Linked DNA regions of Homo sapiens. The protein of the gene in region 2 interacts with the protein of the main gene of each other region in a biochemical or structural test. Each region holds a gene or a part of one and is shown on either strand. Other genes may lie near its edges. The genes, in order: CCNA1, MYBL2 and CDKN1C.

Evidence for each region.
Region 1: the proteins of MYBL2 (region 2) and CCNA1 form a complex in vitro, tested with the Homo sapiens proteins (2 studies listed by BioGRID, with this or other methods).
Region 3: the proteins of MYBL2 (region 2) and CDKN1C form a complex in vitro, tested with the Homo sapiens proteins (one study listed by BioGRID).

The regions. Positions count from the first base shown.
Region 1 is NC_000013.11:36,430,628-36,434,369, forward strand, and holds the start of CCNA1 (cyclin-A1), read left to right. Parts: upstream 1-1,867; 5' UTR 1,868-2,102; intron 2,103-2,405; 5' UTR 2,406-2,429; coding exon 2,430-2,594; intron 2,595-3,742. UniProt on the Homo sapiens protein: May be involved in the control of the cell cycle at the G1/S (start) and G2/M (mitosis) transitions. May primarily function in the control of the germline meiotic cell cycle and additionally in the control of mitotic cell cycle in some somatic cells.
Region 2 is NC_000020.11:43,697,983-43,701,724, forward strand, and holds part of MYBL2 (myb-related protein B), read left to right. Parts: intron 1-1,774; coding exon 1,775-2,062; intron 2,063-3,742. UniProt on the Homo sapiens protein: Transcription factor involved in the regulation of cell survival, proliferation, and differentiation. Transactivates the expression of the CLU gene.
Region 3 is NC_000011.10:2,883,790-2,887,531, reverse strand, and holds the start of CDKN1C (cyclin-dependent kinase inhibitor 1C), read left to right. Parts: upstream 1-1,756; 5' UTR 1,757-1,898; exon of another isoform or gene 1,899-2,042; coding exon of another isoform or gene 2,043-2,075; coding exon 2,076-2,862; intron 2,863-3,397; coding exon 3,398-3,528; coding exon of another isoform or gene 3,529-3,533; intron 3,534-3,616; 3' UTR 3,617-3,621; coding exon of another isoform or gene 3,622-3,742. UniProt on the Homo sapiens protein: Potent tight-binding inhibitor of several G1 cyclin/CDK complexes (cyclin E-CDK2, cyclin D2-CDK4, and cyclin A-CDK2) and, to lesser extent, of the mitotic cyclin B-CDC2. Negative regulator of cell proliferation.

The DNA.
Region 1 (3,742 bases), on a different chromosome or scaffold from region 2:
GGACTTGCTGTAGAGTCCCAGACGGAGTTAGCCACTGAGTCCTTCAGCGACCCAGGAAATAACAACACTGTTGGCAGGTGGGGGAGGGCGCCCGGGAAGATATCCAATAGTGGCGTCAGGCAAGAGGACAGAAATGCTCCTTTCATTCACCTTTCGAAGCAGAGCATTTGGTCCCCGTTGGCCTCTGACTCTCTGTTGCGGCAATCTAGATGTTACCAGAATTCCCGTGTTTCCTTCATATTCAAAGGCACAGGAAATCTGGGGTGCAAGCGGACTGCTGTCTCTCAAGGAATAGAAGTCTGTGACAAACGTATAGAAATGAGTTTCATGTTGAACAAGATCCGTTTCTGCGTTCCTCCCTCATCCAGCCTTGATTCTCCAGATGCTTACCAACTTCTTAATATTTACCTCAACTGCAAGGCTTTCAACCGGCGCTTTTGTTAGAATACTACTATCTTCCCATTAAAGCAATGTCCACACTCAGTTTGCTTGGTGAAAATGTTAATAACGCACACTTAGAAAAACGGTGATAACCGTTGCTTGCATAAAGTGGCCATTTGAATAGACTTTGGATCTGATTTAGAGATTTAGGGATGGATGTTTTAAAAAAAGCAAAAGTAGTAACAGACTATAGCATTGGTAATGTGTGTGTGCATATATACATATTATTTTTAAAAAAATAAAGTTCGATTATTTCACCTGGCTTGTCAGTCACCTATGCAGGCGTCTGAGCCCCCGGGTTTCCAGGAGCCCCCCGTATAAGGACCCCAGGGACTCCTCTCCCCACGCGGCCGGGCCGCCCGCCCGGCCCCCAGCCCGGAGAGCTGCCACCGACCCCCTCAACGTCCCAAGCCCCAGCTCTGTCGCCCGCGTTCCTTCCTCTTCCTGGGCCACAATCTTGGCTTTCCCGGGCCGGCTTCACGCAGTTGCGCAGGAGCCCGCGGGGGAAGACCTCTCGTGGGGACCTCGAGCACGACGTGCGACCCTAAATCCCCACATCTCCTCTGCCGCCTCGCAGGCCACATGCACCGGGAGCCGGGCGGGGCAGGCGCGGCCCGCAAGGACCCCCGCGATGGAGACGCAACACTGCCGCGACTGCACTTGGGGCAGCCCCGCCGCGTCCCAGCCGCCTCCCGGCAGGAAGCGTAGGTGTGTGAGCCGACCCGGAGCGAGCCGCGCCCTCGGGCCAGCGTGGGCAGGGCGCCGCAGCCTGCGCAGCCCCGAGGACCCCGCGTCGCTCTCCCGAGCCAGGGTTCTCAGGAGCGGGCCGCGCAGGAGACGTTAGAGGGGGTTGTTAGCGGCTGTTGGGAGAACGGGTCACGGAAACAGTCCCTTCCAAAGCCGGGGCCATCGTGGGGTGGGCGAGTCCGCCCTCCCAGGCCGGGGGCGCGGACCAGAGGGGACGTGTGCAGACGGCCGCGGTCAGCCCCACCTCGCCCGGGCGGAGACGCACAGCTGGAGCTGGAGGGCCGTCGCCCGTTGGGCCCTCAGGGGCCTGAACGCCCAGGGGTCGCGGCGAGTCCACCCGGAGCGAGTCAGGTGAGCAGGTCGCCATGGCGATGCGGCCCCGGAGAGCGCACGCCTGCCGCGGTCGGCATGGAAACGCTCCCGCTAGGTCCGGGGGCGCCGCTGATTGGCCGATTCAACAGACGCGGGTGGGCAGCTCAGCCGCATCGCTAAGCCCGGCCGCCTCCCAGGCTGGAATCCCTCGACACTTGGTCCTTCCCGCCCCGCCCTTCCGTGCCCTGCCCTTCCCTGCCCTTCCCCGCCCTGCCCCGCCCGGCCCGGCCCGGCCCTGCCCAACCCTGCCCCGCCCTGCCCCGCCCAGCCGGCCACCTCTTAACCGCGATCCTCCAGTGCACTTGCCAGTTGTTCCGGACACATAGAAAGATAACGACGGGAAGAGCGGGGCCCGCTTTGGGGTCCAGGCAGGTTTTGGGGCCTCCTGTCTGGTGGGAGGAGGCCGCAGCGCAGCACCCTGCTCGTCACTTGGGATGGAGACCGGCTTTCCCGCAATCATGTACCCTGGATCTTTTATTGGGGGCTGGGGAGAAGAGTATCTCAGCTGGGAAGGACCGGGGCTCCCAGATTTCGTCTTCCAGGTAACGTGGGTTTAGTATCCCGACTTGGAGGCTTGTCAGAATGTTTCTCTCCTTCCAGCCCAACACGAAGTCTTGGGATAAAAAGCCTCCCTCAGGGATTCAAATAACTGTTTTGATTCAGAGCAACTTTGATCGCCTGTGCGGTCGCACCTGCCCTTTCAGCCCCAATAATTACTGGGAAGATCAGCAATTGGTGTTAGTCCCATTGCTTGGTGCTCTCCCTCCTAGAGGTTCGCTGTGTCCTTGGAGCCCGGGGTGGACGGAATCGACTAAACAGCTTGTCTGTTTCTCTTTCCCTGGTAGCAGCAGCCCGTGGAGTCTGAAGCAATGCACTGCAGCAACCCCAAGAGTGGAGTTGTGCTGGCTACAGTGGCCCGAGGTCCCGATGCTTGTCAGATACTCACCAGAGCCCCGCTGGGCCAGGATCCCCCGCAGAGGACAGTGCTAGGGCTGCTAACTGCAAATGGGCAGTACAGGAGGACCTGTGGCCAGGTAATGACTCAGACGCATTGAGAATGATGCTTGTGGAGAACAGCTCTCCTGCTTTGGTGCCAGGTGCTTTTCTCTTGCCCTTGTACCTACAACTCCCCCTGAGTATTACAACCCTGGAATCTGGACTACAGGAAAGTTGATTGATTTATTTTCTTTCTTTCTTTCTTTCTTTCTTTCTTTCTTTCTTTCTTTCTTTCTTTCTTTCTTTCTTTCTTTCTTTCGTTCTTTCTTTCTTTCTTTTCTTTCTCTTTCTTTCCTTCTTTCTTTTTCTTTGTTTCTCTTCCTTCTTCCTTTCCTTTTTTTTTCTTTCCTTTCCTTTCCTTCTTTTTTTTTTTTTGAGACGGAGTTTCGCTCTTGTCGCCAGGCTGGAGTGCAGTGACGCGATCTCGGCTCACTGCAACCTCCACCTCCCGGGTTCAAGCGATTCTCCTGCCTCAGCCTCCCGAGTAGCTGGGATTTCAGGCACCCACCACCACGCCCGGCTAATTTTTGTGTTTTTAGTAGAGATGGGATTTCACCATGTTGGCCAGGCTGGTCACCAACTCCTGACCTCAGGTGACCCGCCCACCTCGGCCTCCCAAAGTGTTGGGATTACAGGCGTCAGCCACGGTGGCAGGCCAGTTGATTTCTTAAGATCACCTTGAGGGGTTCGGTTTTCAGCTAGAAATAGTGATTAGTTTTCTTTGTTATTTTTTCCACTATCAAGGAAATAGGTCTAGGAACTGTTTGGGTTATGTATATTAAAGTAATTTAAGGGCTGGGCTAAAAGGAAATGTGAATGCTTCCAAATAAACTGTGGAACTGGGGTTCCTCCAGGTTAGAGCAGTGTTCACATTGATGCAGGCTGTGCCTAAAGCAAACCTGGATAATCTTGGCTGTGTTCATTGCGGATAGTGTTAAAATCAGGATTAGATCAGGCTAGATTAGATTACTCCAAAATGGGTGCTTTGAAGGCAGACATCTTCCCAGTACTGACTAAGCAGCTATGCTAACAGGTAATGGTCCCTCAGATATTAGTTGTGTGAACTTAACTGATCATAGATACCTTAACCAGACTGAAAACTATACCTTTCCTATTTCATAAGTGAGAAAATCTGAAAGGTTTAAGCCTCTGCCAAAAGAAAGCTATGGTAGAAACTAGATTAGAA
Region 2 (3,742 bases):
TTTCATTTCTTTTACTATTAATGAGGGTGAGTAACAAATTACCCCTTAATTTGTTAATTTGTTATTTGGCTTGGTTGTCTTTTTTTTTTTTTTTTTTTATCTTGTTACTGGTTTGTACATTTTATTTGTATATTAAGGATGCTACTCCTTTATCATGTAGTAACTATTTTTTCCCAGTTTGGTAGCTTTTTTTCTTTATTTTATAAAGGTATAATTTACATACAATAAAATTCACTTTTTGTTTGTTCGTTTGTTTTATAGAGATGGGGTTTGCCCAGGCTGGTCTCGAACTCCTGGGCTCAAGGGATCTGTCTGCCTTGGCCTCCCAAAGTGTTGGGATTACAGGTGTGAGCCACCACGCCCCGCATATTTTTTTTTTTTTTTTTTTTTTTTTTTTTTTTTTTTTTTTTTTTGAGACAGAGTCTCGTTCTGTAGCCCAGGCTGGAGTGCAGTGGCGCAGTCTCGGCTCACTGCAAGCTCCATCTTCCGGGTTCACACCATTCTCCTGCCTCAGCCTCTCAAGTAGCTGGAACTACAGGCGCCTGCCACCACACCTGGCTAATTTTTTGTATTTTTAGTAGAGATGGGGTTTCACCGTGTTAGCCAGGATGGTCTCGATCCTCCTGACCTTGTGATCCGCCCGTCTCGGCCTCCCAATGTGCTGGGATTACAGGCGTGATTTTTTTTTTTTTTTTTTTTTTAAATGAGCAGGGTCTTGCTCTGTACCCCAGACTGTAGTGCAGTGGCGTGATCATAGCTCACTGCAACCTTGAACTCATGAACTCAAGGGGTCCTCTTGCCTGAGCTTTTCAGAGTTCTGGGATTACAGGTGTGAGCCGCCACACCCAGCCCCCTCCCCCCTCCCTTTTTTTTTTATTAGAGTCTTGTTGTGTTGCCCAGGCTGGAGTGCAGTGGTGTGATCATAGCCCATTGCAACCTTGAATTCAGGAACTCAAGGGACCCAATTGCCTCAGCCTCCCAAAGTGCTAGAGTTACAGGCATAAGCCACTGTACCTGGTCTTTTTATTTTTTAATGTTTATTAAGCATTAAAAATTTATTTTTTAATTTTTTTGAGACAGAGTTTTGCTCTTGTTACCTAGGCTGTAGTGCAATGGTGCGATCTCAGCTCACTGCAACCTCTGCCTCCCAGGTTCAAGCAATTCTCCTGCCTCAGCCTCCCGAGTAGCTAGGATTACAGGTGCCTGCCACCACACCTGGCTAATTTTGTTTTGTTTTGTTTTTAGTAGAGACAGGGTTTCACCATGTTGGCCAGGCTGATCTCGAACTCTTGACCTCAGGTGATCCACCAGCCTCGACCTCCCAAAGTGTTGGGATTACAGGCGTGAGCCTCTGCACCCAACCTCTGTGTATTACTTCTTTCATCTGAGCCATTTGAGAGTTAGTTATGTAGCATAGATTCCTAAGAATAAGGCCATTTGCTTACATAACCACAATAAAGTTATATTCAATCCAGGGAATTTAAGCCTAATTCAGGATCTTTATCTACAGTTTATATTCCATTTTTCCCTGTCCATGATGCAGTCTAAGACCAGACATTGCATTTAGTTGTCCTATCCCTTTAGTCAGCCTTTCTTAGTGTCATGATGTTGACATTTTGGAAGTATATGGTATGGCTAATTATTCTGTAGAATGTTTCTCTATTTGGGTTCATCACAGTTTCCTTCTTAGATTCAGGTTGTGTGGTTTAGCTGGAAACTACTATATAGTCTATATCTCAGCGAAATGCAAATGGTGTATTCTTGTGTCTTACAGGGAAGTCTTCTGACCAACTGGCCCTCCGTCCCTCCTACCATAAAGGAGGAGGAAAACAGTGAGGAGGAACTTGCAGCAGCCACCACATCGAAGGAACAGGAGCCCATCGGTACAGATCTGGACGCAGTGCGAACACCAGAGCCCTTGGAGGAATTCCCGAAGCGTGAGGACCAGGAAGGCTCCCCACCAGAAACGAGCCTGCCTTACAAGTGGGTGGTGGAGGCAGCTAACCTCCTCATCCCTGCTGTGGGTTCTAGCCTCTCTGAAGCCCTGGACTTGATCGAGTCGGTATGTTGGTCACAACACTTCACAGTGAGCACAGAACACCCCCAGCAGGAAGTGCTTCTCTCTCAGGCCCACATCCTTTTGCTCATTCCATCGCCCTGCTAACAGTTACTGACTTGATGCTGAATGCCTAGCCCTGACCCAAGGGCTGGGGACACCAGGGTTGTCAGCATGCAGTCCCTATCCTTGGGGAGCTCCCGGTGTGTGCAGCAGGAGTTTGTGGTGGCATCTGACCTCTATGTATGGCACAGGGCGGGGTGGGAAGGCTGCCCAGAGGAGGTGGCACTGAACTGAGTCCTAAAGGTTGACTGGCAGGTGACAGCACAGGACAGCGTGGTATTTGTGGCATCACACATGGTTGGGTCTCCCTGAAGAGGAGCCCAGGAAATGCCAAGTCTTGGTGCTGGTCTTGGAGTGGTGAGTGGGTTCTGGTTACTCAGGGTGGGGCAGCCATTGAGCCCGTGTTGTGGTTACTGTGTTGGCTGTGTGGTTGTGTCCTTTGAGGAGGGCTTCTTGGTGTGACACCCCGGCTCCTGGCTGCATCGGCCAGGCCTGCTGTGTAGAGCGGGTTTTGGGAGGTGAAAGACCAGAGGCCTGGTCACTAGGGTGGGGAGTTCAGTATGGGGGTCCGTGTTCGCCTTTCCACCCAGGTGTCTCCCATCCTAGAACATCTAACTGCCAGGGTCTGAGCTTAACATACAGTCTGCGTGGTATCCTGTGAGGTGTGTCATTTCTGTTTTTTAGGTGAAACTGAGGCTCAGAGAGGTCAAGTAGTGTACCCAAGGTTGCACAGCAAGTATACTTGGTGGTCTTGACTGCCATGCTATGCTCCTGCTACTATCGCTTGGCAGGCACAGCTCGCTTGTATTGAGCACCCACTGATTGCCGGAGCCAGTGCTTAATGAGTAATTACAGTACCTAACATTGGAGTGCTTGCCGCGTGCCAGGCCCATCACTTGCTACCTAATGTGTAGGCTCTTAGTTGGTCTTTAACAGCCTGTGAGGTGGGTAGTGGACTCATCAACAGTGAGAGCACCCCACGCTCAGAGAGGTTAGGAGACTTGGCCAGGTTCACACAGCCGGTGACCTCCAGGAACAGGAGTTAAACCTTGCTGTCCGGCTCAGAGCTCAGGCTCTTTCCACAATGACCTTCAGCGCCTGTTGGGGGAGTTACTGCGTGTGTGGAAATCCCATCTTCCCTCCTCTGCTCCGTCCACTTCAGTGGTCCTTGTAGGATGTACTTCTGGTCTACCAGACACTGTCGGTGCTGGGTCCTCCCTGAATTGGGGTGTGGGCCTGAGGTCGGTCCTGCCCCCCAGCTGGCCTCCACCCTTAGGAGTGAACTACCCCAGGGAACCAGAACTCGGCTTTAGTGTCTGGGTCCACTCAGAAGCCAGAACCCAAAGACCAAAGTGGAAGCCTCTGTGTCCAGAAGCCTTTTGGTTTGTGTTGTGATTTATTGGGTAAAGGAGGGAAAACCTGTAGTGACTCACGGGCTTGTTCTAGAAGCTGAGTGAGTAACTTTGGGAAGACCGAATCCCCTTAGCTCAGCTTCCTTGGTATGAAAGGGAAAGTAATGCTTCCCTAGCAGAATTGTGGGGATTGGAAATAACTTTTGTGAGCTGCCCCAAGGAGGCATCAATGATGAGTGACATCCCATTCACTGCTCTATATTTCGTTCTA
Region 3 (3,742 bases), on a different chromosome or scaffold from region 2:
AGCAGACTAGACTTTGCCTCTTTCTGCCCCCAGGCCAGTTGATATGAGCCCTGCTTGAGGGGTTCGCAGGGCCTGGGGAGCCTTCTTCAGCTTCTCTTTGTTTTCCTAAGATGAAAATTGTGACATCTGGGCTTGTTGCGGGAAATTTGTAAATTGTGCACAGAGAAGAATATGAAATTGCACATAAATCATGGCTTTTGGTTCCACCATCAAGAGCCAAGAATGGCCCTGGCCCCTCTCCTGGGTTAACGCCCTGTCCCATCCAGTTCACCCCCCTCACTTCAGATCTCGCTTCCCTGAGACCCAGAAGACCCGCCCTGCTCCCCCAGCTGCAGCTGCACACTGCCACAGCATTCCATGGGGGTGGGGGTGTCTTGGGACTCAAAGGCAGGCTGGTTGGGGTTCAGGGGACCGCACCTTCCCTCCCTCCCAGAGGTCTCTCTGCTGGCTCACAGGCTCACCTGAGATAGGGGCTTAGATCTCATGGGCTGCTGGACCCTCCAACAGGTGTCTGACAGTCCCCATCCCGATCTGGGAGGCTCCTGGTTTGAGGAGGGGGCTCCCTGCCTCATGGTAGGTGGGCCAAAAGGGAGGCAGCAGGAAATAATGGTCTCTTTTGGTCTGGCCTGGCTGGGGTGAAGCACCGTGTGTGTGCGTGCGTGTGTGTGTGTGTGTGTGTGTGCGTGCGCGCACGACCGAGGTCTGTACCAGGAAGGGCTGCAGGCGGGGGAGGGGCATGGTCCTTCACAGCCCCTTCCCCTATGACCTCGGGCAGATCTTTCACTTTTACCCAGTACAACAGCTTCCAGCCAGCCTGGACAGGCAGATCCCGGGGCTGGAGTGGTCTGGCCCAAGGCTGAGAAGGGCTGGGACCCCCGACAGTGACATGATGGGCTCAGCCCCTGTTCCATCTACTGGGCAGGGTGGGCCTCCGCAGATAGCGGCTTCAGACTCCAGCTCCAGGGGGCTGGTGGGAGTCTCTCAAGGTGTCCCACACATGGTCCCTCGGGGAAAGAGTGGAGCTGACCCCTGTCCCCCCTCCCGACTCGAGGGCCTTAGGGCCAGCAGGTGTGTGAGGGCTCCAGGCGCGCGGAGCCCTCGAAGGGACACCAGCCCAGCAGCAGCAGGCCGCGCGGGGGCAGCCGAAGACCCCATCCGGCGCAGGCCAGGGCCGAGCTGGCAGCGGCGGGTCCAAGCCTCGTCAGCTGGCGCAGGAGGCCCACGGGCGAGCGCGGGACGGAGCTGGGCGCCGGGGTCCGGACCGGGCCGGGGTCGAGTTGGGCCTGGCCGGACACCGGACCCGCCAGGAGCCGGCCCCTGCCGCGCTGGGCTGAGGCCCCCGCCTGCAGACAAAGGAGCCGGCGGGGGGCGGGAGCCGGGGGGGTGGGGGAGTGTTGCAGGGGGGATGGGGCGAGGGGGCGGGCGTCGCGGTGTCACGTTACCGCCCGCAGCGCCCTTTAACTCCCGCCCCCGCCCCGCTCACCGCCCCCTTCCCCTGCTACAGCGCGCTCGCCCCGCGGCCGCCAATCAGCCGCGCGCCCCGGCCGCGCGCCCCGCCCCGCCCCCGGTGGGTGTGCGCGCGGCCAATGGGCGGTGCGCGGGGGCCGGGCCGCGGCGGGGCGGGGCAGCGGGGCGGCCGCCAATCGCCGTGGTGTTGTTGAAACTGAAAATACTACATTATGCTAATCGCGGCCGGGCCCGCGCGCACGGGGGTGGGGCCCGCGCGTATAAAGGGGGCGCAGGCGGGCTGGGCGTTCCACAGGCCAAGTGCGCTGTGCTCGAGGGGTGCCGGCCAGGCCTGAGCGAGCGAGCTAGCCAGCAGGCATCGAGGGGGCGCGGCTGCCGTCCGGACGAGACAGGCGAACCCGACGCAGAAGAGTCCACCACCGGACAGCCAGGTAGCCGCCGCGTCCCTCGCACACGCAGAGTCGGGCGGCGCGGGGTCTCCCTTGCGCCCGGCCTCCGCCCTCTCCTCCTCTCCTTTCCCCTTCTTCTCGCTGTCCTCTCCTCTCTCGCTGCCCGCGTTTGCGCAGCCCCGGGCCATGTCCGACGCGTCCCTCCGCAGCACATCCACGATGGAGCGTCTTGTCGCCCGTGGGACCTTCCCAGTACTAGTGCGCACCAGCGCCTGCCGCAGCCTCTTCGGGCCGGTGGACCACGAGGAGCTGAGCCGCGAGCTGCAGGCCCGCCTGGCCGAGCTGAACGCCGAGGACCAGAACCGCTGGGATTACGACTTCCAGCAGGACATGCCGCTGCGGGGCCCTGGACGCCTGCAGTGGACCGAAGTGGACAGCGACTCGGTGCCCGCGTTCTACCGCGAGACGGTGCAGGTGGGGCGCTGCCGCCTGCTGCTGGCGCCGCGGCCCGTCGCGGTCGCGGTGGCTGTCAGCCCGCCCCTCGAGCCGGCCGCTGAGTCCCTCGACGGCCTCGAGGAGGCGCCGGAGCAGCTGCCTAGTGTCCCGGTCCCGGCCCCGGCGTCCACCCCGCCCCCAGTCCCGGTCCTGGCTCCAGCCCCGGCCCCGGCTCCGGCTCCGGTCGCGGCTCCGGTCGCGGCTCCGGTCGCGGTCGCGGTCCTGGCCCCGGCCCCGGCCCCGGCTCCGGCTCCGGCTCCGGCCCCGGCTCCAGTCGCGGCCCCGGCCCCAGCCCCGGCCCCGGCCCCGGCCCCGGCCCCCGCCCCGGCCCCGGCCCCGGACGCGGCGCCTCAAGAGAGCGCCGAGCAGGGCGCGAACCAGGGGCAGCGCGGCCAGGAGCCTCTCGCTGACCAGCTGCACTCGGGGATTTCGGGACGTCCCGCGGCCGGCACCGCGGCCGCCAGCGCCAACGGCGCGGCGATCAAGAAGCTGTCCGGGCCTCTGATCTCCGGTGAGCCCCGCACGGCCCCGCCCCGGCCCGGCCCGGCCCCGCTTTGTCCGGCCGGCCGGTCCCCCCAGCCCTCGGGGGCCTCGCTGGGTTCCCGCCTCCTCCCGTGGCATTAAAGGGCCCGCAGCGCTCAGGGCGCGGCTGCGCCCTTACCCCCCTCCCCGCCCCGTTGTTGTGCCCTCCAGCGGCTTCGCGCGGGCGGGGTGGGAGGCTGAATCCCGGCCGCGACCCCCCGGGAGCGCAGTTTTCGCCCCCGGCCGCGGGAGCCCCTCCCCGGGCGCGGCCGGGCGCCGTGAGCACGGCGTGGAGGGGGTTAAGCGCGGCGGCGGCCCCGGGGGGCTTGGCCGCGGGACAAGGGGAAATGCTTACACAGCACATTGCGCGGCGACGTAAACAAAGCTGACCCGCCGCGGACCTCGGCGCGGGCGGGGACGGCGCCCCCACCCCGGCCGGCCCGCGCCCCGCGCCCTCTCCCGGCCCCCTCTCGGGTCTCCGGGCCGGCCCCGCCCTGACCGGCCGCGCGCGCTGTCGCCCGCAGATTTCTTCGCCAAGCGCAAGAGATCAGCGCCTGAGAAGTCGTCGGGCGATGTCCCCGCGCCGTGTCCCTCTCCAAGCGCCGCCCCTGGCGTGGGCTCGGTGGAGCAGACCCCGCGCAAGAGGCTGCGGTGAGCCAAGTGAGTACAGCGCACCTGGGGGGGCGCGGAGGGCCGACCCGCCGGGTCCCCGCCGGCTTTGCTGACCGCCCCTCTCCTCGCAGTTTAGAGCCCAAAGAGCCCCGAGGGAACCTGCCGGGGCAGCGGACGTTGGAAGGGCGCTGGGCCTCGGCTGGGACCGTTCATGTAGCAGCAACCGGCGGCGGCTGCCGCAGAGCAGCGTTCGGTTT